7 linked regions of the Homo sapiens genome follow. The protein of the gene in region 7 purifies or fractionates together with the protein of the main gene of each other region. This does not show direct contact. Each region holds a gene or a part of one and is shown on either strand. Other genes may lie near its edges.

Region 1 (4,233 bases), on a different chromosome or scaffold from region 7:
CAGAAATAACATCTCAAAGTGTCACTTCTACTTAGTAGAAGGGGTCCCAATAGGCACTATATTCCACACCTGATTCCACACCAGAAGGCCAAGCTATTAACCTCTTTATTTGAAACTTGGTTGTGAATGTTTTAGTCCCAAGACATCTCATCACGGCTTATTGGATAAAATGAGCATAAGCCTTGGGTGCCTTGGTCCAGTGATCGAGACCAAGATGGAGCAGGAAGGGTAAATCCTCATGCAAGCATGCTAGTTTCCCTTTATATCAGGATAGCAAAAGCCTTCCTAGAATACCCCTCAACAACTACTGCTGACATCTCATTGGTAGCACTGTGTCACACAGCCCTTCCCATATGCAGAGACAACTAAGAACTCAGAGTATTTAATTTTCTAGTGTCTATAGTAGACGGAAGAAAAGAAGAGATGTGCAAGCTAACCTACAGTGCATGCCACACTAGGGAATAGTCAAATCAAGCAAGTATGTTTTACACTATTTTTAAGCATACACTTTAGACTGAGTAGAACAAATTGAAAATTTCAAAGATACGAGATTGGAAATTTTGTCTTCTGAAATTGAACTGAAGGAGTAGCTCAGCTATCCTTCAATGTGAGTAAAAAACTATCAATAAAAACTCTAGATACTGTTAAATAAAATAAGACCCAAAGCATGTAAAGCTTCTTACTCATTTTAGAGACTTTATGGGGCCTTCCTGCTAGGCCCCATCGTAAACACCCCTGGTACTCACTACAGTTCTGTCCTCAGCATTCTCCTTTTCTGTTCTACCATCACTTATGCCTACAGCTTGAAGAACCTTCTTAGTATTGATGACTCACATTTTTTTTTTTAAATTTCTAGCCCAAATCTCTCTTCTGCCCCAGAGTCATATTCCAATCACATGCTGGATATCTCCACCTGGCTGTTTCCTAAACACAATAATCTTAAAGTATATGAAACAGAATCTATTCTTGGCTTACTGAAACCTGTTCCTCTTCCTGTATTTTTCTTTTTAATCTTATCATGGCGGCATCTGGTTTCCTAAGTTTGGAGTCATTTATAACACTATCTCTTCCTCACTCCATGTTCACCAAATCCTTTTGATTTTACTATTATACAAGCTCTCAATTCCATCTACTTCTCTCAACCCTCACTGCCATAGATATACTTCAGGTTCTCATCATCTTTCATCTAAACTACCACAACTACTTTAAATTCATTTCCTTGCCATAATTTCTTCCCTCTTTCCAATCCATCCCCTATGTGCCTAGAAATCAGTTCAAAGAACAAACGATGTATATAATAATGTCCATTGGCTCTTAAATACCTAAAGGATAAAGTTTGAATTCTTTCCCACTGTTGTAGCCTCAATTTCCATGTTTTCTACTTCCCCTTCTTCCTCAAAATACCCTATACTCCACATATACTCACTGTTCCATGCATGTCAGACAATTCTGGGTCTTGGTACTCTCTCTTATCTTTTTTTTTTTTGCACAAGCTGTTCCTTCCTTTTATGGTGTCCTTAATTAACTCCCTTCTTTAGAAGTAAATTCTTATTCTTCCTAGAAGATCTAGCTCAAATGTTACCATCTCTGTGATGCTTCCTCATCTCCACAGAGCAGTTCCCTCCTCTTAAGTTTACATCTCTATTAAAATTCTGTTAACATTGTTTGTTAATTAATTAATTAATTATATTTTAGAGATGAAGTCTCGCCCTGTCATCCGGGCTGGAGTGCAGTGGCACAGTCACAGCTCACTGCAGCCTTGAACACCTAGGCTCAAGTGATCTTCCTTCCTCCTCCATCTCCCAAAGTGCTGGGATTACAGGTATGAGTCACTGTACCACGCCAATACTGTATCATTATATCTGTTCTCATCACTTGATCTGTATCACACAATATACAGGAATAGAGTGGTACTATATAAAGGTTTGATATATGAATAAACCAATTTCTACAATCAAGCTCAGTTTTCTATTTATATATTTAAGGAAAGTTGGAAGAATTAATTACAAAATATTTGGTATCTCTTAATAAAATGAATGATTGAAAATTAATATCTTGGGAAACAAACATATTGTTGGTAAAGACTATGCATTTGTGTAACTCTAAGGGCAAAAATTTGTCAATGTCCACCAAAATTAAAAAAATGTACATAATCTTTAGGCAATTCTAAATCTAAGAATTTATTCTTTTTTTTTTTTGAGACGGATTCTTATGCTTTCATCAGGCTGGAGTGCAGTGGCACGATTTTGGCTCACTGCAACCTCCACCTGCTGGGTTCAAGTGATTCTCCTGCCTCAGCCTCCTGACTGGCACTGTAGCTGGGACTACAGGCACGCACCACCATGCCCAGCTAATTTTTGTATTTTTAGTAGAGAAGGGGTTTCACCATCTTGGCCAGGATGGTCTCGATCTCTTGACCTTGTGATCTGCCCGCCTCAGCCTCCCAAAGTGCTGGGATTACAGGTGTGAGCCACTGCGCCCAGCCAGAACTTATTCTATACTTACACATCTGGGCAAAAACCACCTACAAGGATATTCATTGCAGACAGAACTGGTTGTAACAGCAAAACAGTTGAAATAAATCTCTCTCAAATGGGACTGGTTAACTAAGGTGCATATAGACAATGGAATACTACATAACTATTAAAAGGAATAAGGTAAGTCTATATGCATTTGTTACAATTTACAAAATAATTTTTCTTTTTTTTTTTGAGACGGAGTCCCGCTGTTTAGCCCAGGCCGGATTGCAGTGGCGCAATCTCGGCTCACTGCAAGCTCCGCCTCCCAGGTTCACGCCATTCTCCTGCCTCAGCCTCCCGAGTAGCTGGGACTACAGGTGCCCGCCACCGCACCCGGCTAATTTTTTGTATTTTTTAGTAGAGACGGGGTTTCACCGTGTTAGCCAAGATGGTCTCGATCTCCTGACCTTGTGATCCGCCTGCCTCGGCCTCCCAAAGTGCTGGGATTACAGGCGTGAGCCACCGCACCCAGCCACAAAATAATTTTTCAAGTGAATAAAGATACAGAAGAATGTGCATGATATACTGACAGTGTCCTTTCAAATGCATTTTCTTATTTTTATTTATTTATTTAAAGAGATGGGGTCTCTCTCTGTTACACGGGCAGGAGTGCAGTGGCATGATCACCACAGCCTCGAACTCCTGGGCTCAAGCAATCCTCCTGCTTCAGCCTCCTAAGTAGCTGGGTAGCTGGGAATACAAGTGTGAACCACTATGCCCTACAACATTTGTGTCTTTTTTTTTTTTTTTTGAGACACTGTCTTGCTCTGTTGCCCAGGTTGGGGTTCAATGGTATGATCACGGCTTAACTGCAATCTCTGCCTCCCAGACTCAAGTGATCCTCTCACCTCAGCCTCCTGAGTAGCTAGAACTTCAGGCATCTGCCACAACACTTGGCTAAATTTTTCTTGTTTCCTTTTTGTAGAGATGGGGTTTTGTCATGTTGCCCAGGCTGGTCTTGAACTCTTGGGCTCAAGGGATCAGCCCACCTCAGCCTCCCAAAGTGCTGGGATTACAGGTGTGAGCCACTGTGCCTAGCCATCTTTTCTTTTTAAAAGCTACTAATGTTAGCCAGGTGTGGTGGCTCACGCCTGTAATCCCAACACTTTGGGAGGCCTAGGCAGGGGGACTGCTTGAGCCCAGGAGTTTGAGACCAACCTGGGCAACATGGCAAAACCCTGTATCTACAAAATAGAAATTAAAAAAGTGAAAAGAGAAGACATCTTATATACATTTGTGTATGAACTACAATGCCTCTAAAAGAATGCATAAGAAACTGCTTACAGTGGTTGCCTTTGGGAACTGGGGTCAGCAATGGGAGAGTTAACTTTTCACTGAATATCCTATTGTATCTTTTAAATTTTGCATTGTGCTATGCAAATGATAGTACATAAATAAATGAGGTAATGAAACTTTACTAATAAAATGCCAATTGATTTCATAAAACTTTATAATCAAAAATTAGAATACCTTTAACAATAATTTTCAGTCTTGTTCATAGATTTTTTTTGTTTTTTGGAGGGGGAAAGTCTGCAGAAACTGTTCAGTCCTATTCAAACAATTATTCAGTAATCGTTAGGTGCTAGTGATGCAAATATAGGAAGACATGAGACTAAAAGAGCTCACAATCTAGTAGACAGAATGAACATGTATTCAAATAGTCTCAATATAAAAAGTTACTTCTCAAAGCTTCTTTAATAGCAACTGAGTATAA
Region 2 (4,233 bases), on a different chromosome or scaffold from region 7:
TTAAGGTTTGAGCTAATGACCTAATGGTAGAGTAAGTCTAATTTTTCTAAAAAATATATAAATTTGAATACTGCCTTTTTATCATCAAATGATACTGAGAATGATCACTATTTATAAATGTAGACATCACTGCTAATAAATAATATATTTCATCAATATAGTGAGCTAAGCTTTTCAAGCACTTGAATATACATTATCTTAATAACGGTCATAAAAACCTGTGAATATACAGTATATGACCAATATGTTACCTGGTCTTTTCCCTTCTGTGCACCTGTGGCATTTCATCACCAAGGATTATCTCTCTCATCATTTGTCTGACATTGGAACTAAAGGGCATCATGTAAGAAAGTAGGAAAGGTAGATTCATGTACTCTCAACTTAAAAGATTAGTCTATCCCTCTAACACCTAAAGCTGTTCTCAATACTCCATTTAGACTTATCCATTCATTTATCAAAGGTACTATCAAACTTTTATCTTCTCTTAGGGTATTATTTGATTTGTTATTACAGTAACCATGATAAAAACTTGAAATAACCATAACAACTCAAAATCCATAGGAAGACATTATTCACAACAGAATTATACCTCTTCCCAATGGCTTAACTATTACAAATGCTTCAGTATTTTCTTCTTTGGGGACTTAAAATCTGGAACAATTAGAGATAAATCAGAAAAATGTGTGACCCCTGTGATTATCAGAAAACCAAATGTTTTCATGTTTAAAAGATAACATTGTTCATAGTATACATTATCCTGCATAACCCTTTTCCTTCAAAATGGATATTAAAATTTAAAATCCTATTAACCCAAACAGTATCACATTTAAATATATATTGGGCTAATTGTATTAAAAACTGACATTTTTCTTGGAATCAATGTGATGCCATATTTGAGTAAGTAATAAGCCAACATTCACCATAAACTTTCTTGTCTGCCAGAAAACTAGTGTTACTTCTAAACAGTCTACTCACCATTTACGAGATGCACATTCGAAAAATAGCATTCCAGCTAGGATTAAGACAATATAAACAAAGAAGACACACAATTTCCCCTCACATTTCTGCTTCATATATGATTGGCCAAGGTCCTATAGTATGCTCCAAGTTATCAACTAATTTAGCCACAAATCTATGAAAATAATAATAAGTATAGTTATATTTCATATGTGGCTTAAGTGTGCTTAGCACTCTATACGCATTATTAATTTAATCCTTAAACTAGATGAGATAGTTTACAAGGGAGATAAACAAGGCTCAGAGAGGTGAAGCAAGTTGCCCAACAAAAGGCAGTCAGGATTTGAACCCAAGCCTATGATTCCAGGGTTCAAGATCATAGCCATTAAGCTCTACTGCCTTTCCACTAAGAAATATCTGAGAGTGAGGCCAGGTGCAGTGGCTCATGTCTGTAATCCCAGCAAACTGGGAGGCTGAGGCAGGAGGATTGCTTGAGCTCAGGACCAGCCTGAGCAACATGGTGAAACCCTGTCTCTACAAAAAATACATAAAATTAGCCAGGCGTGGTGGCATGCACCTGCAGTCCCAACTACTTGGGAGGCTGAGGTGGGAAGATCACTTGAACTTGGGAGGTTGAAGCTGTAGTGAGCCTTGACTTTGCACCACTGCACTCCAGCCTGAGTGACAGAATGAGACCCTGTCTTAAAAGAAAAAAGAAACATCCAAGAGTGGAACAGAAAACTTTGTTGAAATGAAGTGATCTTTAGAAATGTATCACCATTTTTTTAAAAGTGGGACCAAGAAAGAAAACTCTACAAACTACAAGCAAAACTCTTATCTCCTTTTACTGAATAGACTGTAAAAGCACTTCACCTGTAGACGATAAAGACCATCCACTAATCACAATCCTCTATACCCATGTCCTTACAAGATTTGAGCAGTAACACAACAATATAACAATGTCAGGCCCTGTGAACTATGTCTGGCATGGAACAACAACAATGAAAGTGGGACTGCAATAATGAAAATCAGTTGAAAGATTTAGTGTTTGACTTACTCCATTTACTTTCACCCCCTTTCTTCACTTGCCTTTTTCTTCTTCATCTTTCTCATCTGGAGCAAATTAAACCATCACGTTGTAACAGGCATTCCTCCAATGCTCTGCTGGCCTATTTTCAAAACCATCTCAAACTGTAGAAACCTTTTATCAACCTCAAAGCACTTAATCCTTGACAACTTTCTTCTAGTATTAACTATTTCAGTGGCCAGCAATTAACAAACCAATTTGTATACTATGCTGTAAATGAAAGCAGCTTTAAAGTTAGCAAAAGTGAACTTCAAATCAGTGAGACAGGCAAGTGTGCACAGAACAAGGCAAAGCTTTGACACCATGAACTGTGCTGCTTTAAGTTTGTGGTCCTTGTGTTCTAATAACCTCTAGCCTTTTTTAAAAATTTTTTTAGATTTTTTTTTTGAGACAGGGTCTCACTCCGTCACCCAGACTGAAGAGCAGTGGTGTGATTGTAGCCCACGGCAACCTTGAACTCCTGGGCTCAAGGGATCCTCCTGCCTAAACCTCTCGAGTAGCTGAGACTATAGGCGTGTGCCTCCATGCCCAGCTAATTTTTAAATTTTTTTTTGTTCTTATAGAGACAGGGTCTCGCTTTGTTGCCCAGGATGGTCTTGAACTCCTGGGCTCAAGCAATGCTCCCGCCTAGGCGTCCCAAAGTGTTGGGATAACAGGAGTGAGCCACTGCGTCAGGCCTAATAACCTCTATTCTGAAAATATCATTCCCTAGGCAGGTCCTTCATAGTCACTCTTAGCCATTACCCACCAACATTAAAAACTCTGTAAGAACTCAACACATGTTTAGATTTAGACCATTAGACCAAGGGTAACCAACATGTACCCTTGAAATTGCGCAACAGAGAAAAACATTTATGTCCATTAACTTTCCCACAGGTCATCATGGGAATTTACGGCTATGAAAATGTTTGGGTGTTTGACTAAAAGAACAGATTCGGGCAGTACAGCACCACCTCAGTGCTTTCCAAAGGGTCATCTCAGGGTTACCACAGCTGCCCTTGCAAGCAGAGACTTTCTCTGAAATATTGGGGTTTGCCTCAGATTTTCTATGAATATTGCGTTCTAAGGCAGAATGTATCTGAATTTGTTTAAAGATTTTTAAATAGCTACCAGTTAATGTTCTCCTAAATCTCTGTGTAAAACAGATGCTTCAAGAAAATACAAGCTGCTTTATTTTGTGGCTCCTGGGAGCACCACCTTGTCACCACCCTGCTCAATCAGTACATGTGCTCCACTTTGAAGGACCCAAAGTAATGGAAAGAGCACTAGACAGAGATTCTATTTGTTTAGACTAGCACAATGCTTGGAATATAATAGGCACTTAATAAGTATTTGTTGAATGAATTGGCAGAATAGTTTCAAGGACTAGTTTTCAACTGCAAGAAAACTGCAGAAAAAATCCTTTGAGACATGTAATTACTGGCAACCCCACAAAACCGAAGGAAAAAAAAACAGGCCAGGTACAGTGGCTCATGCCTGTAATCCCAATACTTTGGGAGGCCACAGCATGAGGATCACTTGAGGCCAGGGGTTCAACACCAGCCTGGGCAACATAGTGAGACCTCATCTCTACCAAAAACAAAAGAAAATACACCAATTGTGTATTGGTAAAGAACAAGAAAATCCATGTTGTTTTAGTTTAGTTAGAAAGGAAAAGGCTGTCAAGATGTTATATAAAGATAATACTGAGGGGGGTTGTGTTAGGATAATTAAAACCCAATTCATATCATGGACGCTAAGAAGAGTTTTCAATTAACTCTTGGGTTTTCCTTTGCATGTTTTTAATCTTAATGATGTCAAGTTTACAGAGGAAAATAAAGAATTGTAACGCACACTCATGTCCCCATGTAACCATGCAGGGCGCTGGGGCTAAGGAAGGTCAGGAATCATGTCTCATTTGTTTTCTACCTTTCTCTTTTCTACTTTTCTATTTCTTTTTCTTTTTTTTTTTTTTTTTTTTGAAACTGAGTCTCGCTCTGTCACCAGGCTGGAGTGCAGTGGCACGATCTTGGCTCACTGAAACCTCCAACTCCCTGTCTCAAGCGATTCTCCTGCCTCAGCCTCCCAAGTAGCTGGGATTACAGGCACATGTCACCACGCCCAGCTCATTTTTGTATTTTTAGTAGAGACAGGGTTTCACCATGTTGGTCAGGATGGTCTCGATCTCCTAACCTTATCATCCGCCCGCC
Region 3 (4,233 bases), on a different chromosome or scaffold from region 7:
TTCTCCTGAGCAGTAGATTCCAGTGCTTTTAATTTCTCTTTGAGTTTTATGTACTTTCCAATTTTTCTACAATGAACAGGTATTAAATGCATAATTTTTTTCATACACATTGACAAAATGTCACCTTTTTCTGATTACCAAATGATATTTTCTTTAAAGTGGAGTATTTTTGGGCCTGGTGTGGTGGCTCACGCCTGTAATCCCAGCACTTTGGAAGGCTGAGGCGGGTGGATCACCTAAGGTCAGGAGCTCAAGACCAGCCTGGCCAACATGGTGAAACCCCGTCTCTACTAAAAATACAAAAAAATTACCCGGGCATGCTGACAGGCGCCTGCAATTCCAGCTACTCGGGAGGCTGAGGCAAGAGAATCGCTTGAACCTGGGAAGCAGAGGTTGCACTGAGCCGAGATCACACCACCACACTCCAGCCTGGGCAACAGAGCAAGACTCCATCTCAAAAAATTAAAATAAAATAAAGTGGAAGATTTTTTTTTAAGTGCAATGCTGAAAACATCATCATAGCCAAGGGCAGGTGAATGGATTCTTGTCTCCTCTGGACTGACTTGGGGCCTCTGCATATCAAAAGAAGGCAGCCCCTTCCCAGGCCAGTGCCCTGGACAGCACCTGGGGCCTTACGGCATTCACAGTGAGGGCGGCTGCCATGCTTGGAACTCTCTGCCACCAGGGCTGGTGCAGTCAGCATGGTCTAGCTAATGTTCTGTTCTGTCGTTAATATATTATACAAATAATACATGTTTACTGTAGAAAACTTAGAAAACACAGATAAGCCAAAGGGGGAAGACTCACATGTAATCCCACTCTCTAAAGAAAACATGGTGTTGTCTGTCTAAACTTTATTTTGGAACAGTTTTAGATTGCTGAAAAACTGCAAAGAATCCAGAAAACTCCCATATACCTCACACCCACCGGGTTTCCTCCATTATTAATATTTTATGTTAGCATGGTACATTTATTACAATTAACGAACCAGACTGAGATATTATTAACTATAAAGTCCATTGATTTCCTTAGTGTTTACACTTTTTATTATATGGCGAGAACACTTAATATGGGTCCTACCCTTTTAACAGATTGTAAGTGTCCAACACTGACGGCGCTCTGCTGTACAGCCCATCTCTAGGATGTATTCGGCTGGCAGGACTCAAACTTTACACAGCAACGATCAGCAATGCCGTTTCCCCTATTCCCCAGCCCCTGACAACCACCCTTCTCCTCTCTGCTTCTGCTGAGTTTGACTATTTCAGATTCCTTCTATAGGTGGAATCATGCGGTATTTGTCCTGTCCCTGGCTTACTTCACTTAGCATTATTTCCTCAGAGTTTATTCATGTTGTCACACATTGCAGGATTTCCTTTTTTTTTCTTCTTCTTTTAGAGATGAGGTCTCACTGTGTTGCCCAGGCTGAAGTGCAGTGGCACAATCACGGCTCACTGCAGCCTCAACCTCCCAGGCTCAAGTGATCCTCCCACCTCAGCCTCTCAAGTAGCTGGGACTACAGGTGGGCAACACCATGTCTAGCCTATTTTTGTTATTTTTTTTTGTAGAGAAGGGGTCTCGCTATGTTGCCCAGGCTGGTCTCAAACTACTGGGCTCAAGCCATCCTCCCACCTTGGCCTCTCAAAGTGTTGGGATTACTGGCGTGAGCCACCACACCCGGCCAGGATTTTCTCCTTTTTAAAACCTGGATAATGCTGGTATCTACACACAACAAAATATGAGCCAGATTTCCTCAGTTTTTCCCCTGATATCCATTTTCTGTTCCAGGATCCCATCCAGGACTCACACACCACTGAGCTGTCATGTCTCTTTAGACCCTTCTTGGCTGTGACAGTTCAAACTTTTTAAAAAGACTTAGAGAACATAACTTTTAACAAAAATAGAACCATACATACATTCTATTTTAGAATCTCTTTTTTTTTAACTTAACAATGTATCCTGGGTGTCCTCCTATGTTGCCAAATTTACTCCTATTCTAAAGGACCAAGGCCAAGAACAGGCCTCCAGCCCCGGGCAGGGTGCCAGAACCACACATGGGTAAGTCCACGATGAATTCAATGCTGGAAACTGGCTCTTTTGGAGCCGTTGTACCTGAGGGAGGTTTTGTACCATAAATGCCCAATGTCAGCTGGGTGTGGTGGCTCACACCTATAATCCTGATACTTTGGGAAGCCAAGGTGGGAGAATTGCTTGAGCCCAGGAGTTTGCGATCAGCCTGGGTGACATGGTGAGACCTTGTCTCTACTAAAAATGTAAAAAAAAAAAAAAAGGAAAGAAAAAACAAAGGCCGGGTGCCGTGGCTCATACCTGTAATCCCAGCACTTTGGGAGGCTGAGGCAGGTGGATCACGAGGTCAGGCGATCAAGATCATCCTGGCTAACACGGTGAAACCCCGTCTCTACTAAAAATACAAAAAATTAGCTGGGCATGGTGGCGGGCGCCTGTAGTCCCAGCTACTCGGGAGGCTGAGGCAGGAGAATGGCGTGAACCTGGGAGGCGGAGCTTGCAGTGAGTCGAGATTGCGTCACTGCACTCCAGCCTGGGTGACAGAGCGAGACTCCGTCTCAAGAAAAAAAAAAAAAAAAAAAAAAGCCTAGTGTGGTGGTGCATACCTGTGGTCCCAGCTACTTGAGAGGCTGAGGTGGGAGGATCGCTTGAGCTCAGGAAATTGAGGCTGCAATGAACTGTGATCACACCACTGCACTCCAGCCTGGCTGACAGAGTGAGACCCTGTCTCTAAAAAAAACCCAGTCTCATGAAGAACCCTGAAAGGGTCCAGTGGGGTAAGGCTGGCAGCTGCCAGGATGGAAAGGGCCCTTTACTGCCTCCTGCCTCTGGGCCTTTGAACATGCTGTTCCCCTTTCTTGGACCACCTTCCCCACACACCTGGCAAAGTCCCACTCATTTCAGCTTAGATGCCACCTCCTCCAGGAAGCCTTCCCTCACATTCAAAGGAAGATTGTGGGGCTCATGAAGCTCCCAGAGCCTCCTCCTTCAGAACACCGCCACTATGTGCTGGAATTGCCCCTGAAGAGCCTATGAGCTGTGAAGGAGGGACCCTGTCCTCTCTATGCGTCCCCAGCCCCAGCAGAATGCCTGGGTACAGCAGGCGCCCTGTTAGTTTCTGCTGGATGGACACTGAAGAGCTGGGACAACACAGGGATCCAAGTCAAACTCAAGGAAGCCAGGCAATTTCGTGCCAGGAATCCAAACAGGAACCTATGGTAATTGCATACAGCAGTTTGGCTGGGATTAAGTGGCTTGGATCCTCTTGTTAGGCTCATAATAGAAGATATCAAATTACTGTAAAGAATACAGCAACACTCAAGAGAAGTCCAAATTTGATCCAAAAAATCATTCCAGATTTTTTTTTTTTTTTTTTTTAGTGTTCTTGGCTGAGCTCCAGGATGGGCTCTAGTTCCAGGACACACACCACTGGGATTTGACTTAGCTTTTCTCTGGCTCATTCTCCCACAGGCCTGGCCTGCTTGCATCAGAACAAGGATGTTTGCTGCCCTGGCACCTCCAAGTCGAGGTTTCCGTCCATCCTTCCTTTCTCCCTTTTTTTTTGAGATGGAGTCTTGCTCTGTTGCCAGGCTGGAGTGCAGTGGCGCGATCTCGGCTCACTGCAACCTCCGCCTCCCTGGTTCAAGCAATTCTTTTGCCTCAGCCTCCCGAGTAGCTGGAACTACAGGCACGTGCCACCATGCCCAGCTAATTTTTGTATTTTTAGTAGAGACGGGGTTTCACCATGTTGGCCAGGATGGTCTCGATCTCTTGACCTTGGGATCCACCCGCCTCGGCCTCCCACAGTGCTAGGATTACAGGTGTGAGCCACCGCACCCGGCTTTTTTTTTTTTTCTTTTTTTTTTTTTTGAGACAGAGTCTTGCCCTGTCACCCAGGCTGGAGTGCAGTGGCGCAATCTGGGCTCACTGCAAGCTCCGCCTTCCGGGTTCACGCTATTCTTCTGCCTCAGCCTCCCAAGTAGCTGGGACCACAGGCGCCTGCCACCACGCCCGGCTAATTTTTTGTATTTTTAGTAGAGACGGGGTTTCACCAAGTTAGACCAGGATGGTCTCGATCTCCTGACCTTGTGATCTGCCCGCCTTGACCTCCCAAAGTGCTGGGATTACAGGCGTGAGCCACGGCGCCCAGCCTGTTTTTTTTTTTTTTTTTTAAAGACAGAGTCTCATTCTGTCGCCCAGGCTGGAGTG
Region 4 (4,984 bases), on a different chromosome or scaffold from region 7:
AGAATTTCCCAGGACTGGAAGGGACTTTTAAAGACCCAGAAATCTTTCTGGGCAGTGCCTCCAAAGTGTGGCCCCTGAGGTGTTCCTGCTGCTCTGGTGACCGGGGGTAGTTGACCCTATTTCAATGTCAATCAGAACAATATACATTCCTTTATAAACTTGTTTTTTTTTTGAGAGAGAGTCTCACTCTGTCACCTAGGATGGAGTGCAGTGGTGCAATCTCAGCTCACTGCAACCTCCGCCTCCCTCCTGTGTTCAAGCGATTCTCCTGCCTCAGCCTCCTACCGAGTAGTTGGAATTACAGGTGTGTGTCACCATGCCCAGCTAATTTTTGTATTATTTAGTAGAGACAGGTTTTTGCCATGTTGGTCAGGCTGGTCTCGAACTCCTGACCTCAAGAGCCTCCTGGGCCTCTAAAAGTGCTGGAATTACAGGTTTGAGCCACCTCGCCCTGCCTATAGTGAACATTTACATAATATTTTGTTTGACTAGGTTTCTGCCATTAAGAAGATGCAAAACCCTGAGGGAGTGTACCTCTTCACTTTGCATATGGGAAAACTGAGGCTCAGAGAAGTGAAATGACTGAGACCTCCAGGTGCCACCTCCCTTTCAGCTGCTCCTGCCCTGCTCCAAGCAAGGATGTGCCAAGTCAAGAGAAGACAGAGGACAATTAATGTTATCTGAGGATCTCGGAGCCTCATCCCTGAGCTATGATGGTCTTTCCCTCCTTAGTTGGGAGCCCCATCACGTTCCTCCGAAGCTCTAGTTGTGTGATAAGGAGGGTGGAATCTGAGACAGAGAACGATGGCCCTCCAAGGAGGGAGTTCGGGGTGAGGAAAACAGCAAAACCATGTGCTAGACAAGATCTTCAACTGCAGGGCTCTGGAGGCAACTGGGAAGTTTTGAAAGTGCAGATTGAAGCTCAGGGCCGCTGTGGGTGGCGCAGGAACTGCAGAAGACAAGATAGGATTAGGGAGGGCCAGCAGGTTGCCAGAGGCCCTTTTCCACCTGCTGGGCTTAGAGGGGCGGGACTCTGCCCGCTCCCTCACTTGGTTGGGTTTAAATGACCACTCCCCGCCCTAGCTGTGCCTTTGAGTGTGTGGCAAGGGATTGCAGACGGGAGACTGCTTGTCAATTCAGGGAAGTCAGCCTCTTTCTGCCACTTAATTCGCCCATCAGTAGAGATCCGACTTTCCCACGGTTCACTGTCACCCCCATTGCACAGGTGGGGAATCCAAGGCACAGAGGCGTCTGGGCCAGAGTCCCGGGACTATCCACTCATTCCGGGGTTGTAGGGCAGCATGTGTCAGGAGCTTGGGCTCGAGCGTGCGGGGCACTAATTGCGAGTGCAGTGGCCACAGGCTCCCGGGCAAAGTGGTCAGGAGCCCATTCCCGCCACCTCCGTCCGCGCGCCCCGCCCTGTCCTCCAGCAAGTTGGTGCACGCGCGTCCTCCCACAGGGCGCGGGATGGGGGCGGGGCCTCCGTGTTGTTGTTTCTCTGGGGCCCCGCCCCTCAGGGGGGCGCGGACCACGCGGCCGGAGGGCCCGCCTCCCCTCCCCCTCCCCGCCCAGCCCGCCCGCCTCTTTGTATCCAACATCCGGGTTTCCCCGCTGGCTCGGCTCCGTGGCCGCCGCTCAGGAGCCATTTTGGACTCGGTTCAGCTCCCCTCCCCCCCACCCCTCCCCCCGTTCATGGCCCCTCCGGACTCGGCCCCTGCGCCCGGGGCCCGGGCCCAGCCCCGCCGCGCTATGCCTGAGTCGGGCGCGCCCCGGCCCGTGCCCCGCCGCCGCCCCCCGGCCCCCGCGTCGCCCCGGAGCCCGGGCCGCAGCCTGCGCCGCCCGCAGCGGCCCTGAGCCCGGCCCCGCCGACCGGCCCTTGGAGCCCGAACGCTGCTCGGGGACGAAGGCGCAGGAAGCGCGCAGGGAACGAGACCGAAGGAAGGAGCGGGAAGGAGAGCGCAGCCGCCGCCTGGCCCTGCGCGCCCCGGGAGCGCCGTGCGGCCCTGCCCGCGGGCTCCGGGTGTGCGCGGGGCGGCGCCGCGGAACATGACGGCGCCCTGGGTGGCCCTCGCCCTCCTCTGGGGATCGCTGTGCGCCGGTAAGAACTGGGCGCGGCGCGGGGACGCCGAGAGGGCGCGCGGGGCTGGCCTCTGGCGCCGCGCGGTGTTTACCAACAAAGGGCGGGCCCGGGGCCTCGTCGCCGCACCACCTGTATTCAGCCCTCACCTCCGGGGGCGTGGGCTGGGGGCGCGGTGGGCGCCCGGCTCGCCGAACTTGGGGGCACGATCTTGTCTGTGCAGTCATCTGCGGGATTCTGGTTCCTAGAGGCGCCCCTGCGATGGGGGCCGGGACGCGGAGCCTCAGGGTCGGAGTTCGGGCTACGCGGGCGCGTGGAACCCAGGGAAAGAGTGAGGAAAACCTGAGCGTGGGGAAGGCGGCCAAGAGGGGTGGGCAGATCTCATTGGGGGTGGCAGGATTGTAGGTGCAGCAGCAGCAGCAGCATGCGGGGAGGGTTGCATGTCCCTCAGAGTCACTAAGTGTAGCGAAGCGAAGGGGGCGGCTTCACGCAGCCCAAAGTCCCCTGCATCTCTTGCCACCAGTCTGCGTCGCGTTACCGGCCCGGCGGGCTGTTGGTGCTGGCTCCCACCTGCTCCCTCTTTCCCTGCCGTTGGCCCCGGGATGCGGAGTGTGGTCGCTTCGCGGGACCGCTTTGTTTGGGCACTTGGGAGGGGAGGGGGTGGGTAAGATGGAAAACCCAACAGGTCCCTCTTCCTTCGGGCCTCCAGGAGGCACGTGGCGGGGTGGGTGACCAGCGCTCAGCTCGCCCGCGGCTGCGGGCGTGTGGCTGGAGGTGTTCGGCCAGCGCATGTGTGTTTGGGGGTATGTGGGCGCGGGCGTAAACAAGCGGAGTTCCGCCTGGAAAGCTTGTTTCTCCTACGGTCCAAGCACCGATTTCCCTCTCTCAGTGGTGCCGGGGTGCGCCTAACCCCGGCGGGCGCGCCGGGACGTCCCCTGGCCAGTCCTGGGAAACGTGGGGAGCTGGGCATTGAAGCTCTGGCGAGAAGGTCGGGGCGGCTGGTACCCGGCCGCCGGGTCCTGCGCGTCTTTGTTCCCAGCCCCCATTACACATGCAGCGCGGGTCCCCCGCCGCCCTCGGTGGCAGCCGCCTGGAGTCTGGGAAACCCTCGAGGGGCGGGGCCGGGCGTGCAGGGGCGGGGCCGGAGTCCCCACGCTGCTGCGGGGGTGGGGATTTGGGATCTGCGTCCCATTCCCACCCTGGTTCTACCTTCTCCTGTGCGTCGTCGTGAGGCTTAGTTTACACCGAAAGCGAGTGAGTTCTGTAGGGTAGTAGCGCGCGCGCGCGCAGCCTGAGTCCGGAAACCGAAGGGCAAAGACCAGCTGGCACCTGAGTACCGTATGGAAGAGGGCGTTGCAGCTCTCCTGGAGCCGCTTCTTGGAGGCGAAGTGGTGGTCGTGTTGGACTTTCTGCTCTTTTTTGCCCCGCTCCCTTGGGATGCCTTTTCCCCAAGAAGGAGTGCTCGAAAGTGAAAGGGGAGGCATTGGTCTGCTAGAGGGAGGGCGGCAGCAAGCTGACTTGATAGGCAGACCGCAGCCCACCTGACTGCCTCCAGACCCGCTGGGTGCCTGATCCCTGGAAGTGCTGGGGCTCTTCCAAGCCCAGGCCTTTAGGAGAGCTTCCTCCCAAGACAGGACAGCTTGAGACCTGGGATCTGGGGATCACACCAGTCTCACACCTCCCTCCTTAGGCAGGGCAGGGCGGCATCAGACCCCTGGAAGGACTGTATGTCCTTTCTTTTTCCTCTGCTTCAGTCACCTAGCTTGGGCAGTGCTGAGCAGTGTACCCTGCCAGGGGGCAGTCAGAGTCACACTATAAGGACCTGTATTCCTGCCCTGGGAGGAAGGTGGGGGTCACTGGGTATTTCTTGTAGTCACATCAACCAGTCCCTGACCTGTGGAGAACTGTGAAAAGAGCTGCCCCAGGCCCAGTTTGGAGCAGACCTGACCGTCCTGTTGCTTTGGCTTCAGGGATGCCCTTTAATTTCAAGCTCCTGGCTTGCTGTTTGGAATAACCCCCATACTGTGCAGCACACAATGCCTGCTAGAAGGAACATCTAGAAGAGTGCTGTGTGACAGAAATAGTGTATGAACTATGGATAGATATAAAACAACGTTTTCTAGTAGTCGTGTTAATAAAAGGAAGAAGAAACAGCTGTGTCTTAGCTGGGGCTGCCATAACAAAATACTGTAGACTGGTGGCTTAAACAGCAGAAATTTATATTGTCAAAGTTCTGGAAGCTCTAAGTCTGAGCCCAGGGTGCAGGGTGCTGGCATGGTTGGGTTCTGGTGAGGACCCTCTTCCTGGCTTGCAGATATCTGCCTTCTTACTGCATTCTCAAATGACAGGGGTGGGGTGGGGCAAGGGGGTGTTTTCCTCTTTTTGTAAGACTGTGAATCCTGTTCTCATTACCTGATGGCCCCACCCTCATGACTTAATCTAACCCTCACTACCTCCCAAAGGTCCCGTCTCCAAATACCATTACACTGGGGGTCAGAACTTCATTGTATGAATTTTGGGGGGACACATTCTTTCCATGAGATGGAATGAACTTCAATAGTATATTTTACTGGCCTGGCACAGTGGCTCATGCCAGTAATCCCAGCACTTTGGGAGGCTGAGGTGGGAGGATCACGAGGTCAAGAGATCGAGACCATCCTGGCCAACGTGGTGAAATGCGTCTCTACTAAAAATACAAAAATTAGCTGGGTGTGGTGGCACACGCCTGTAGTCCCAGCTGCGCCAGAGGCTGAGGCAGGGGAATGGCATGAACCCGGGAGGTAGAGGTTGCAGTGAGCCGAGATCATGTCACTGCACTGCAGCCTGGTGACAGAGTGAGGCTCCGTCTCAAAAAAAAAGTATATTTCACTGAATTTGATATATACAAAGTAATTTCAGCCTGAGATC
Region 5 (4,233 bases), on a different chromosome or scaffold from region 7:
ACTGCTCCTGAAGCAGTAAAATGTTTTTAAATTAGGACTATGATAAATGAAAAAGAAAATCTCTGATCAATCAAAAAAGTAACAGAACACACTCAAAAAAATAGGAAAGATAAAATACTAAAAAATAACCTCAAGAAAGGCAGCAAAGGAGAAAAAGAAAGGCAAAGAATATACAGGACAAATATAAAACAAACACCAAGATGTAAGGCCTAACAATAAACACATAATAAATATATCACGTGTAAATGTACTACAGATACCAATTAAAAAGCAAAGATTACTAAATTAGGTTTTTTTAAAGTGAGAGAAACTATGTGCTGCTTACTAGAAATACATTAAACATTTCAATCAGATAGAAAAAGATATACAAATGAACACTCAAATATAAAGAAAGATGATGTGGCTATATTAACATCAGACAAAGCAGACTTCAAGACTAAAAATTACCAAAGATAAAAGAGGAGCATTTTATAATGATAAAAGAATAAATTCATTAAGAAGATATAACAATCTTAAATGTGTCTGCACCTAATAATGAAGTTTAAAAGATATATGCATTCATACAATGGAATACCACTCAGCAAAGAACAAACTACATATTTATTTATTTATTTTTGAGACAGAGTCTCACTCTGTCACCCAGGCTGGAGTGCAGTGGCATGATCTCGGCTCACTGCAACCTCCACCTCTCAAGTTCAAACAATTCTCCTGCCTCAGCCTCCTGAGTAGCTGCGATTACAGGCATGAGCCAACACGCCCAGCTAATTTTTGTATTTTTGTCGAGACAGGGTTTCACTATGTTGCCCAGGTTGGTCTCGAACTCCTGACTTCAAGTGATCCACCTGCCTCGGCCTCCCGAAGTGCTGGGATTGTAAGCATGAGCCACTGCGCCTTGCCCAAACTACTTATTTAGACAAAAACATACATGAACTTTAAAAAGCATTATCCTGAGTGAAGGAAGCTAGGCACAAAGGAGTACATATTATGTGATTCAATTTATATAAAAAAAATTATACAGGCAAAACTAATCTGTGCTGAGAGAAATGAGACCAGTGATTGCTTTGGCAGGAGTAGGGGAAAGAGTGGATCTCTTGGGAAGGATCCTAAGGGAATTTTCTGGGCTGATGGAAATAAATGTTCTAGATCTTGATAAAGATGCAGGTTACGTGGATGTACACACATGCAAAACTGATCAAACTATACATTTAAATTCCATGTGTTTCACTATATAAATTATACCTCATTTTTAAAGTTATATTTTAAAAAGAAATTAAATGCATTAAAAACAATATTTTCAGTCTATAAAGTTTCTTATAAATCCAATAATCTATAATGCTACAGAGCTTATAATTAAAATGAGGTATTCTTATATTTGATAATTTAGTCAAAACAATCCTTTACAAAAACTGTGAAAAAGTGATATTGACATGGGCTACAGTTTGGGTTTTTAATATATTTTCATTATACTGTACTTTTAGTATTTTTTTTTTCTGCTACTAGGATTTGAATGAAGTTAGTGACAGATTATTTCCCAATCTGGAAAGAAGTGGGCACTTGAGAGAAACCCACATATGCTCTTAGAAAATCAAGTATATGGCCGGGCGCGGTGGCTCACGCCTGTAACCCCAGCACTTTGGGAGGCCGAGGTGGGTGGATCACCTGAGGTCGGGAATTCAAGACCAGCCTGACCAACATGGAGAAACCCCATCTCTACTAAAAATACAAAATTAGCTGGGGTGCTGGCACATGCCTGTAATCCCAGCTACTTGGGAGACTGAGGCAGGAGAATCGCTTGAACCCAGGAGGCGGAGGTTGCAGTGAGCCAAGATCACACCATTGCACTCCAGCCTGGGCAACGAGAGTGAAATTCCGCCTCAAACAAAAAAAAAAAAAAAAAAAGGAAATCGAGTATATGAAATTTAGTACAATGATAGATGGGTACCACAACATCAGATCTGATTTAAAATATTCAAATACATTAAAAGGTTTAAAAATTACTTTCGTAAAATACACAGGTAAGCCTCACCCACAGTCAAACAAAACTGCAACACGTGCACTGCGCCTTCTTGTTTCAGAAAGTTCATAAAACGAAATAAAAGATCTTGTTGCTCTCTGATTTGCTTCAATTCTAACTTCAGCACCTTGATATAAGAGAAAGATTAAGTTTAAGCTATATAAATGAGTTCTAAAATTGTTTATATCAAAAAGGTGTTATTGCTGAAAATTCTTACAGATGGCTTTTTATTTCTAGGTTCTGCAAATTTCTGCAAGAATGGAACCAAAGGAGAAGCCGGTTCAGTTGCTTTTTCAGGCTTTGAAAGAAAGAGAATTATTAACTCAGTAAAATTCCCACTTGATTTGACATACAAAATCAAAATTCAATGCAATCTGAAGTGTTTTCTAATATATTCAATACTCACTGGACTGTCATCTATGAAGATGATAAGCAAATGATTCACAGTATCCTAGTGGAAAATAATAAACATAAGTCAAAATAATTCCACTACTGTATTCTCCCCAGAATTCTCATAACTTGTATCATATTATGTAAGTTTCTAGAAAAATGAAAAAATAAATGGAGCAGTAGCAAAAAATCTGCACATATGTATTACAGCAGGAGTTTTTTTACATCTACAAAACAGGTTCTTAACCTTTGTGAAAATGGGCAAATAAAAGCTATTCTGATTTTGGCATTTAAAATATTTCTAAATCATTCTTGTTTCTTCAAAATCTCACTGGATCAAAGGTAGAAGCATCCAAAGTGTCCATCAATGGATGAACAGATAAGCAAAACATGTTATACACATACAATGAAATATTACTCAGCCTTGAAAAGGAAGGAAATTCTGACACATGCTACAACATGGATGAACCTTGAAGACACTATGCTAAGTGAAATAAGCCAGTCACAAAAAGACTAATACTTATGATTCCACTTATATGTGGTACCCAGAGTAGTCAAATTCATGGAGACAGAAAGCAGAATGGTGGTTGCCAGGGGGGGCTGGAGGGAGGAAGGAATGAGGAGTTATTGTTAACAGATGCAGAGTTTCAATTTCATAAGATGAAGAGTTCTGGAGATGGGGAATGGGGATGGTTGCACAACAATATGAATGTTTTCAGTATCACTGACTATATACATAAAAATGTTTAAGATACTAAATGTTATATTAAGTGTAATTTGTAACAATTTAAAAAAAAATCTTAAGTCTTACTGGATCAGCTAGGAAATCCAAAGAAGGAAGGAACACAGAGCCAGACAGAATCTCTCTTATAAGTAAGGTCAGAGATCTGGAAAAAGAAATAATAATAATTGTTTATATTTAGTGATTTATATTAGTTCTTAACTTTCAAGTGCATGTGAATTACGTAAGGATCTTGTTAAAATGGAGACTATAATTCAGTAGGTCTTGGTTAGGCCCTAAAAGTCTGCATTTCTAACAAACTCTCAACCAATGTTCATGCTACTGGTTTGCAGAACACACGTTGAATAGCAAAGAGTTAGAGTTCTTACTTGGCTAAAATAGAATATTACTTAAGAGAAGAAAAAGTATTCCCTTAACAGGAGGAACTTGGGGGACATTAGGAAAAACTCTCTATCGGCCGGGTGGGGTGGCTCACGCCTGTAATCTCAGAACTTTGGGTGGCCGAGGCAGGGGGATCACAAGGTCAGGAGTTCAAGACCAGCCTGGCCAACATGATGAAACCCCGTCTCTACTAAAAATACAAAAATTAGCTGGGCATGATGGTGCATGCCTGTAATCCCAGCTAATAGGGAGGCTGATGCAGGAGAATCGCTTGAATCCGGCAGGCAGAGGTTGCAGTGAGCCGAGATCACACCACTGAACTCTAGCCTGGGCAACAGAGCAAGACTCTGTCTCAAAAATAATTAAAAAAAAAAAAGAAAGAAAGAAAATACTTTCTATCTAAGAATACTTAAATGTTTATTATATATTTAAATTAATGTTTAATGTAATTACCTTATAATCATATTTACTATTATAAACTAGTCTAGTATAAAAATCATGTAATCAAAATATTAAAATATTTTTAAGAACCACATAAAAATTTTAAACAAAAAGTAGTATTTAAAGTACATCACTTTAAATATCACTAAAAATAAGCCATGGTTACTCCTCTAAGGGTTATTAGGGTAAGAGTAACAAGGTAACTTATGGAATAATCTAAACATGCTCCAGCCAGAAAAAGGGAGAACAGACTAGATGACCTCCA
Region 6 (4,233 bases), on a different chromosome or scaffold from region 7:
TGTTTTATCTTCAAGGTTTTCAGCTCTTTTCTCTGGACCATCTGGATATAAGTTGATAGCTGTCACAGGTATGACGTCCACTTTATCCAACTGAAGAATTCCTCTGAAATAGAAAGTGATTAATTACTATCAAAATTAAATGTTTCCTCTGCCTGTAGTTTGATAGTGAGAAAAGGCTACTTCAAGGTTATAATATACACCTAAGGTTAGGTGCTTTTGCTACATTCTATTTAAAAATTCATAGTGGTTGTACAAACTGAGCCCAAAGTCACTTTAACCAAACTGGCTGAGAGAATAGAAAGGCATCGAGGAAGTTCATTATTTCCTATTTTAGGGAAGAATAGGGTAAGTATAGATCTCCAAGGCAGAGTTAGGTTCCTAGATACACCCAGGCTGAGCAAAAAGCCTAAGCCTAAGCCTCTCTCTAAATAATACTCACCACCACAACACAACCTTAGGTCTTTAGATAGTGTTGCTCTTTTTGTTACTTAAAATCCCTGACCAGAGAGTACGTCTTTGGATTGAATCTAGGACCCTGCATTGTAAATTCAGTGTTATTCTAATAAGAACATCAACGGGGGTTAGTTGTTTATAGAACCAAACAGATTCTAAAGTTCACAGGGGAGTAACTGCAAGAACAGCCATAAGATTTTTTTTAAAAGAACAATGGGGAGAAGACAAAGTTGTCTTAAGTAGCTCTCAAAGGTTTTATTAAAACATGATAGTAGGCCAGGTGTAGGGGCTCACACCTATAATCCCAGCACTTTGGGAGGCCAAGGCGGGCAGATCACTTGAGCCCAGGAGTTCAAGATCAGCCTGGGAAACATGGCAAAACCCCATCTCTACTAAAAATAGAAAAAATTAGCTGGGCATGGGACACATGCAGTCCCAGCTAGCTAGCTATTCAGGAGGCTGAGGTGGGAGGATCGCTTGAACCCGGGAAGTGGAGGTTGCAGTGAGCCGAGATCGTGCCACTGCACTGCCGCCTGGGTGACAAAGTTAGCCCCTGTCTCAAAAACAAAAACAAAACATGAGAGTAATTAAAACTGTGCTACTGGCACAGGAATAGACAAATAGATCACTAGGACAGAAAACAGTCCAGAAAAAGACTAACATATATGGAAATTTAGTTTATAATAAGGTAACATTCTAAGTCAATGATAAATTACTAATGGAAAAATGGCCTCTGTCTGGGAAACAAAATGAGAACTCTAGCTTTAAAAGTATACAGAAAAGTAATGCTAAAAAATAAATTTTGGCTGGGTGCAGTGGCTCATGCCTGTAATCCCAGCACTTTGGGAGGCTGAGGTGGGTGGATCACCTGAGGTCAGGAGTTCGAGGCCAGCCTGGCCAACATGGTGAAACCCTGTCTCTACTAAAAATACATAAATTAGCCGGCTGTGGTGGTGCACGCCTGTAATCCCAGCTACTCGGGAGGCTGAGGCAGGAGAATCTCTTGACCCCGGGAAGTTGAGGTTGCAGTGAGCAGAGATTGTGCCACTGCACTCTAGCCTGGGCAACAAAGCGAGACTCTGTCTCAAATATATAAATAAATAAATAAATAAATTTTAAGAAAATATAATGGCTGGGCACAGTGGCTCATGCCCTTAGTAATCCCAGCACCTTTGGAGGCTGAAGCAGGAGGACTGCTTGGGCCCAAGGAGTCCAGCCTGGGCAACATAGTGAGACCCTGTCTCTACACAAAATAAATTTTTTTTAAAAAAATGGCTGGGCACGGTGGCTCACGCCTGCAATCCCAGCACTTTGGGAGGCCGAGACGGGTGGGTCACTTGAGGTCAGGAGTTCGAGACCATCCTGGCCAACATGGTGAAACCCATCTCTACTAAAAATACAAAAATTGGCCAGGCATGGTGGCGGGCGCCTGTAATCTCAAGCTATTCAGGAGGCTGAGGCATGAGAATTGCTTGAAACCAGGAGGTGGAGGTTGCAGCAAGCCAAGATCACACCACTGCACTCCAGCCAGGGCAACAGAGCAAGACTGTGTCTCAACAACAACAACAACAACAACAACAAATTAGCCAGGCAGGGTGGCAAGTGCCTGTAGTCCCAGCTACTTGGGAGGCTGAGGCAGGAGGATCGCTTGAACCCAGGAGGGTCAAGGCTGCAGTGGGCCTTGATAGCACTGCCACTGTACTCCAGCCTGGGCAACAGAACAAAACCCTGTCTTTAAAAAACAAAAAACAAACAAAAAAAGCCCCATAATTTTAAGATAGGAAAGTCTGGCCTACTTAGTAGGCAAAATAAAAACCCTACATGCTGTAAAGGAATAACATGAATTACTTAGGCCTTGAATTTAAAGCTTTTGTATGATGAGATACCATAAATAAGCAAAAGACAAACGATAGGCTGGGATTAGTAAAAAAATCTGCAATGTGCATTACATATGTATAACAGACAAAAGAGCTCTTATATACTAATAGTTACAAAATGCCAACACAATTGAAAAATGGCCAGAGGCTCTACGTAAGCAAGTCATGAGAGAATCATATATAGCCAATTATCACAAAGATGTTGAACCCACCCAGACCTAAACTAGCAAAGATGCTAGTAAGATGAAAATGCAAATTAAGATGAATTATATTTTTAGTAGCAAAACCAAAAAAGATTATCATCAGGTTGTAAGGAGTTAATACAATTACTTGTGACACAGTAATTTTACTTTTAGGAATCTATTCTACATAAATACACATGTGCAAAGAAATATATGTGCAAGGATGTATACTAGAACATTATTGGGATTAACATGAAATTGGAAATTACCTAAATGTTAGAGGAATGGTTATATTAAGGTATATCTATACTGTGGAACACCTGTGATATTATGACTTGTAAGTTCCTCTGGCTTCCTGGAACAGCTCCTAAAATCCTTAAATCTCCAAAGTGGTAAGTATCTTTTGGATGCTAATGATGACTGATGGCTGGGGGATCCTGGATAGCCTCAACAGGGGAGCTGGTTGCCAGGGGTATCAACCATGAGATCAGTCCCATCCCCCAACCTTGGGGAAGGGAACGGGGTACTGAAGGTTGAGTTGATCACCAGTGACCAATGATGTAATCAATCATGCCTGTGTGATGAAACCTGCAAAAGAACCCAAAAGGACTAGCTTTGGAGAGCTTCTGGATAGCTGAACACACAGAGGTATGGGACCTGGATAGAGGTGCACCTAGGGAGGGCAGGGAAGCTCTGAACCCCTCTCCCCCTCCCCATGTCTTGCCCTATGCACTTCTTCCATCTGCCTCTTCATGTTTCCTTTGTAATAAACCAGTAAGTGGAGGTGTTTCCCTGAGATCTGTGAGCCGCCCCAAAGACGTCCCAAGCAAATTAATCAAACCCAAAGAGGAAGTCATGGCAACCTCTTTATACCCAGCTGGTCAGAATCACACATCACAACCTGGGGCTTACAACTGGCATCTGAAGGGGGGCAGTCTTGTGGAACTAAGCCCTTAGCCTGTGGGATCTGACGCTGTGTCCAGGTGGAAAGTGTCAGAACTGAACTGAATTAGAGGACACCCAGCTGGTGTCCACTGGAGAATTAGTTATTGGTGGTGAAAAATCCCCACACACGTATTGGTGCCCAAACGTGAAGTACTCCAGAGTGTCAGAGTAGGAAAAACCAAAGTATTTTTCCTATGCTTTGGTTTTTCCTATCTCCTTTAGAACTATGCAGCCATAAAAAGAATAGGTAAGCTATACATAATTATGACATGTCAGTTAAAAATAATATTAAGGGCTGGGCATGGTGGCTGATGCCTGTAATCCCAGAACTTTGGGAAGCCAAGGTGGAAGGACTGCTTGACCCCAGGAGTTTGAGACCAGCCTGGGCCAACCTGGCCTCTACAAAAAATAAATTAAAAAAATTAGCTGGGCATGGTGACACACACCTTAGTCCTAGCTACTCAGGAGGCTGAGGTGAGAGGATCACTTGAGTCTTGGGAGATTGAGGTGAGAGGATCACTTGAGTCTTGGGAGATTGAGGCTGCAGTGAGCCATGACTGAGCCACTGCATTCCAGCCTGGGTGTCAAGGTGAGACCTTGTCTCAAAAATAAGTAATAAAAAATAAAATAGAATTAAAATAACTAAGGGGACAAAAAAGAATATATGTAGTGATAAGAAAAGATCTTAGGTCTATGGTTCCCAAACTGCACTGAGGTCCCTGGGTTGGTGAGCAAACTCACAGAGGCACCACAGAATAATATAAATTTTCAAGAGA
Region 7 (4,751 bases):
CTGTGAGTTAGATTTGGCCAATGTTGTGCCTTAATTGTCTTAATCTTATCTAACTGAATTTTAAGTGTTTTCTCTCTGAAGTGTGAGATTTATTTACCCATGATTGCAAACCTTTATCACATGAGATATTGCACTGTATTTCTTTTTCTTCCTCATCTTTACATTACTTCTCTCTGCAGATTTGTTGCTATTGAGACTTTAGGCAATTAGTTTCACCTTCAGGCTCTTTGTTATTCAAATTTTAGTTTTACTTCCTCTTAGAATCATAATACTTCAGAGTAAAGAGAGTCTTCATTTTAGTAGGCTTTGGAAATTGGGAAACAAAGAAGAAAGACTTTTGCATAATGGCATGGCTTGTTAATCACAGGGCATGGGTAGGACATTGTCCCATTGACTTGAAGACCAACACTCAGTAAGCTAAATGTCTTGGAATCACAAATGTATTTCTAAAGGACAGGCAATGTTTGAGGTCTGAGGTGTCTGCTAGAAAGAGTGCATTTAACAAATGTGAGAAATCATTCTCTAACATGCATTTTAACAAATTGCTCTTAAGAAAAACTACACATTGAGAAAAATCTTACAACCTATGTTCACATCATTTTCTACAAAATATTACTTAAAACTTTGCTTTTGAATTTCCTAATTATATAGAATTTTTATTTTCTTAGTTTTCTATGAAAGTGTTATTAAATAAAATGACTTTCTGAAATGTCCATTTTTTTCAATCAAGAGGTTTTTCTATTTCTGTTGTCATATAAAGATGATAGCAGTAAATATCTGTCTCAACATAGAAAGGTCACTCAGTACTTCTCGACAAGTATCTGCTCATGCTTTCCTGCATGGATGATGAAATAAAACCCCATCCTCCACAGTTACTATACTGGTTGTCACTGGAACTACAAATATTTGAACATGGTAATAGAAAAACATAAAAATGCATAGTTAACCCAACTCAAACGCTGTCTGAGATAGTGGAGAGACTTTCTCAAAGTCCTCACAAGTAACAAAGATCTTTATTTCTTCTGCATATGACAGCTAATATAACTTACATAAATCAGTAGGCCTGTTTGGAAAGGTGCATGGAGAACTGGGTTTGTTTCCTTGGTATTCTTATATGCAAATAAGCACGTTTTCCTAAATTTATCCTAATAAGGAGATGAAATCTTGAATCCTACAAAGGTAAGAATTTGAATGTCCTAATTTAATGGACTAAATATAGATAAGAGGTAAATAAAGGACATAGGCTCCCCCGATGACGCATTAAATAAAATTTTTGTAAGGTATTGAGATCTAATAATCATATTGATCTCAGGGATTGTGGAAGTCTTGCTATTCAGAATTAAAGCTGAATTAACGGTCATAAACAACGCTACACAGTTAAACATTAAGGATATGGCAACATTATTAGAAATAAAATTATAACTAAACTTAGGAGAAATAAAAATGGAATTTGATGCAGTCACTGGTTAGGACTCTGAGTGTCGCTGTTGACCAAAGTGGGAAAGAAGCTGCCGCAGAGGCGACCCGACTCTGCTCCCTCCATACTAAACACACAGACCAGACAAGCTCCTACGAAAAGCCAACGCTCCACGCCCATTTTCGTCAGGGAATATGTACCCATCGGCTTTAGATAAATAAGGAAACAGCAGGCTGAACCAGAACTAAGAGAAAATTGGGCAGAGAGAAGGCAATGGCGAGTCCACCTAGGGGCTGGGGCTGCGGAGAGCTGCTGCTGCCCTTCATGCTCCTGGGGACGCTGTGCGAGCCAGGATCCGGGCAGATCCGCTACTCGATGCCGGAGGAGCTGGACAAAGGCTCCTTCGTCGGCAACATAGCCAAGGACCTTGGGCTGGAGCCCCAGGAGCTGGCGGAGCGCGGAGTCCGCATCGTCTCCAGAGGTAGGACGCAGCTTTTTGCCCTGAACCCGCGAAGCGGCAGCTTGGTCACCGCGGGCAGGATAGACCGGGAGGAGCTCTGCGCTCAGAGCCCACTGTGTGTGGTGAACTTTAACATCTTGGTTGAGAACAAAATGAAAATTTATGGAGTAGAAGTAGAAATAATCGATATTAATGATAACTTCCCGCGTTTCCGGGATGAAGAGTTAAAAGTAAAAGTTAATGAAAATGCGGCTGCAGGGACACGGTTAGTGCTTCCCTTCGCGCGGGATGCGGATGTGGGTGTGAACTCTCTCCGGAGTTACCAGCTCAGCTCCAATCTGCACTTCTCTCTGGATGTGGTAAGCGGAACTGATGGACAAAAGTATCCGGAGCTGGTGTTGGAACAGCCCCTAGACCGCGAGAAAGAGACTGTTCACGACCTCCTCCTCACAGCTTTAGATGGCGGAGACCCGGTACTCTCCGGCACCACGCACATCCGTGTTACGGTCCTCGACGCAAACGACAATGCGCCCCTGTTCACCCCATCCGAGTACAGCGTGAGTGTTCCAGAGAACATACCTGTGGGCACTCGGCTGCTCATGCTAACCGCCACGGATCCAGATGAGGGAATAAACGGGAAATTGACCTACTCTTTTCGCAATGAAGAAGAAAAAATTTCGGAGACTTTCCAACTTGATTCCAACCTGGGGGAAATCTCAACTCTACAATCACTGGACTATGAAGAATCCAGATTCTACCTCATGGAAGTGGTAGCTCAGGATGGAGGCGCTCTTGTTGCCAGCGCTAAGGTGGTGGTCACAGTACAGGACGTGAATGACAATGCCCCCGAAGTGATCCTCACCTCTCTGACCAGTTCGATCTCTGAAGACTGTCTTCCCGGAACTGTAATCGCGCTGTTTAGCGTACATGATGGTGATTCTGGAGAAAATGGTGAGATTGCATGCTCTATTCCTAGGAATTTGCCTTTTAAATTGGAGAAGTCAGTTGATAATTACTATCACCTATTAACAACTAGGGACCTGGACAGAGAAGAGACTTCAGATTATAATATCACTTTAACCGTCATGGACCATGGAACCCCGCCCCTCTCTACAGAAAGCCACATCCCCTTGAAAGTAGCAGACGTTAATGACAACCCACCCAATTTCCCTCAAGCCTCCTACTCCACCTCTGTCACAGAAAACAATCCCAGAGGTGTCTCTATCTTCTCTGTGACAGCCCATGACCCCGACAGCGGCGACAACGCTCGAGTCACCTACTCCCTGGCTGAAGACACATTTCAGGGGGCGCCCTTGTCCTCCTATGTATCCATTAACTCTGACACCGGTGTCCTGTATGCTCTGAGATCCTTCGACTATGAGCAGTTGAGAGACCTACAGTTGTGGGTGACAGCCAGCGACAGTGGGAACCCTCCACTTAGCAGCAACGTGTCGCTGAGCCTGTTTGTGCTGGACCAGAACGACAATACGCCTGAGATCCTGTACCCCGCCCTCCCCACAGACGGTTCCACGGGCGTGGAGCTGGCGCCTCGCTCCGCAGAACCTGGCTACCTGGTGACCAAGGTGGTAGCGGTGGACAAAGATTCAGGCCAGAACGCCTGGCTGTCCTACCGCCTGCTTAAGGCCAGCGAGCCAGGACTCTTTGCGGTTGGGCTGCACACGGGCGAGGTGCGCACAGCGCGAGCCCTGCTGGACAGAGACGCGCTCAAGCAGAGCCTCGTGGTGGCCGTCGAAGACCATGGCCAGCCCCCTCTGTCAGCCACCTTCACGGTCACCGTTGCCGTGGCCGACAGGATCCCTGACATCCTGGCTGACCTAGGCAGTATCAAGACCCCCATTGACCCTGAGGATCTGGACCTCACACTCTATCTTGTGGTGGCAGTGGCTGCAGTCTCCTGCGTCTTCCTGGCCTTCGTCATCGTGCTGCTGGTGCTCAGACTGAGGCGCTGGCACAAGTCACGCCTGCTTCAGGCTGAAGGCAGCAGGTTGGCGGGTGTGCCCGCCTCGCACTTTGTGGGCGTGGATGGGGTTCGGGCTTTCCTGCAGACCTATTCCCACGAGGTCTCCCTCACCGCGGACTCGAGGAAGAGTCACCTGATCTTTCCCCAGCCCAACTACGCAGACACGCTCCTTAGTGAAGAGAGCTGTGAGAAAAGCGAGCCTCTTCTGATGTCTGATAAGGTAGATGCAAACAAAGAAGAACGGCGAGTTCAGGTTAGTTTTCTCTTTCGGTAAGGATGACCAGAACATTTTCATTTGTTTCCTTTTTCATGTTTCTGTCATATTCAGAATCAGCTAGTTATGTAAATAGTGGAACATTATTTGCTGTATTGGAGATTAATTTTTTTTATATAATTCATGCTTTCTCCATTTGTTTTCAAATTCTGTTTTGGGAAGTCTAGCTGATATCTGTAGACTTAAGTGAAACAAATACCTTAAAGGAAAGTGGTTAAATATAATCATTTTACCCAAATATTTTGTTATATTGGAACTGCAGTTCTATTAATAGAAAAGATGTTTTATTTATTCAAATTGTTAGATATATTGTTCTCTTTTGAGTGTCTGCCTAGACACCATTAGTGAATGTGTTTTGGAAAGGATAATGTATAGGACTGATATTTTAGTCTACCTGAAATTTGTTTAAGGAAATAATTTACAGTATTTACATAAATCAGTGGAAAGGTACAGAGAACTTCTGGGTCATAAATATCAGAAAAGAGGCCGGGTGCGGTGGCTGACGCCTGTAATCCCAGCACTTTGGGAGGCTGAGGTGGGCGGATCACGAGGTCAGGAGATCGAGACCATCCTGGCTAACACGGTGAAACCCTGTTCTACTAAAAATACAAAAAATTAG

What was found.
Region 1: the proteins of PCDHGA5 (region 7) and KLHL20 purify together in Homo sapiens (co-immunoprecipitation; 3 studies listed by BioGRID and IntAct, with this or other methods). This does not show direct contact.
Region 2: the proteins of PCDHGA5 (region 7) and KLHL13 purify together in Homo sapiens (co-immunoprecipitation; 2 studies listed by BioGRID and IntAct, with this or other methods). This does not show direct contact.
Region 3: the proteins of PCDHGA5 (region 7) and EPHX1 purify together in Homo sapiens (affinity purification with mass spectrometry; 2 studies listed by BioGRID and IntAct, with this or other methods). This does not show direct contact.
Region 4: the proteins of PCDHGA5 (region 7) and ACVR2B purify together in Homo sapiens (affinity purification with mass spectrometry; 2 studies listed by BioGRID and IntAct, with this or other methods). This does not show direct contact.
Region 5: the proteins of PCDHGA5 (region 7) and SNX14 purify together in Homo sapiens (affinity purification with mass spectrometry; 2 studies listed by BioGRID and IntAct, with this or other methods). This does not show direct contact.
Region 6: the proteins of PCDHGA5 (region 7) and GINM1 purify together in Homo sapiens (affinity purification with mass spectrometry; 2 studies listed by BioGRID and IntAct, with this or other methods). This does not show direct contact.

The regions. Positions count from the first base shown.
Region 1 is NC_000001.11:173,717,583-173,721,815, reverse strand, and holds part of KLHL20 (kelch-like protein 20), read right to left. Parts: intron 1-4,233. UniProt on the Homo sapiens protein: Substrate-specific adapter of a BCR (BTB-CUL3-RBX1) E3 ubiquitin-protein ligase complex involved in interferon response and anterograde Golgi to endosome transport.
Region 2 is NC_000023.11:118,106,394-118,110,626, forward strand, and holds part of KLHL13 (kelch-like protein 13), read right to left. Parts: intron 1-4,233. UniProt on the Homo sapiens protein: Substrate-specific adapter of a BCR (BTB-CUL3-RBX1) E3 ubiquitin-protein ligase complex required for mitotic progression and cytokinesis.
Region 3 is NC_000001.11:225,833,759-225,837,991, reverse strand, and holds part of EPHX1 (epoxide hydrolase 1), read right to left. Parts: intron 1-4,233. UniProt on the Homo sapiens protein: Biotransformation enzyme that catalyzes the hydrolysis of arene and aliphatic epoxides to less reactive and more water soluble dihydrodiols by the trans addition of water.
Region 4 is NC_000003.12:38,452,277-38,457,260, forward strand, and holds the start of ACVR2B (activin receptor type-2B precursor), read left to right. Parts: upstream 1-1,613; 5' UTR 1,614-2,046; coding exon 2,047-2,098; intron 2,099-2,110; exon of another isoform or gene 2,111-2,338; coding exon of another isoform or gene 2,339-2,408; exon of another isoform or gene 2,409-2,544; intron 2,545-4,984. UniProt on the Homo sapiens protein: Transmembrane serine/threonine kinase activin type-2 receptor forming an activin receptor complex with activin type-1 serine/threonine kinase receptors (ACVR1, ACVR1B or ACVR1c).
Region 5 is NC_000006.12:85,545,086-85,549,318, forward strand, and holds part of SNX14 (sorting nexin-14), read right to left. Parts: intron 3,292-4,233; coding exon 3,216-3,291; intron 2,466-3,215; coding exon 2,421-2,465; intron 2,313-2,420; coding exon 2,232-2,312; intron 2,142-2,231; coding exon 2,027-2,141; exon of another isoform or gene 1,999-2,026; intron 1-1,998. UniProt on the Homo sapiens protein: Plays a role in maintaining normal neuronal excitability and synaptic transmission. May be involved in several stages of intracellular trafficking. Required for autophagosome clearance, possibly by mediating the fusion of lysosomes with autophagosomes.
Region 6 is NC_000006.12:149,586,597-149,590,829, reverse strand, and holds part of GINM1 (glycoprotein integral membrane protein 1 precursor), read right to left. Parts: intron 104-4,233; coding exon 1-103.
Region 7 is NC_000005.10:141,362,641-141,367,391, forward strand, and holds the start of PCDHGA5 (protocadherin gamma-A5 isoform 1 precursor), read left to right. Parts: upstream 1-1,521; 5' UTR 1,522-1,690; coding exon 1,691-4,111; coding exon of another isoform or gene 4,112-4,132; exon of another isoform or gene 4,133-4,751. UniProt on the Homo sapiens protein: Potential calcium-dependent cell-adhesion protein. May be involved in the establishment and maintenance of specific neuronal connections in the brain.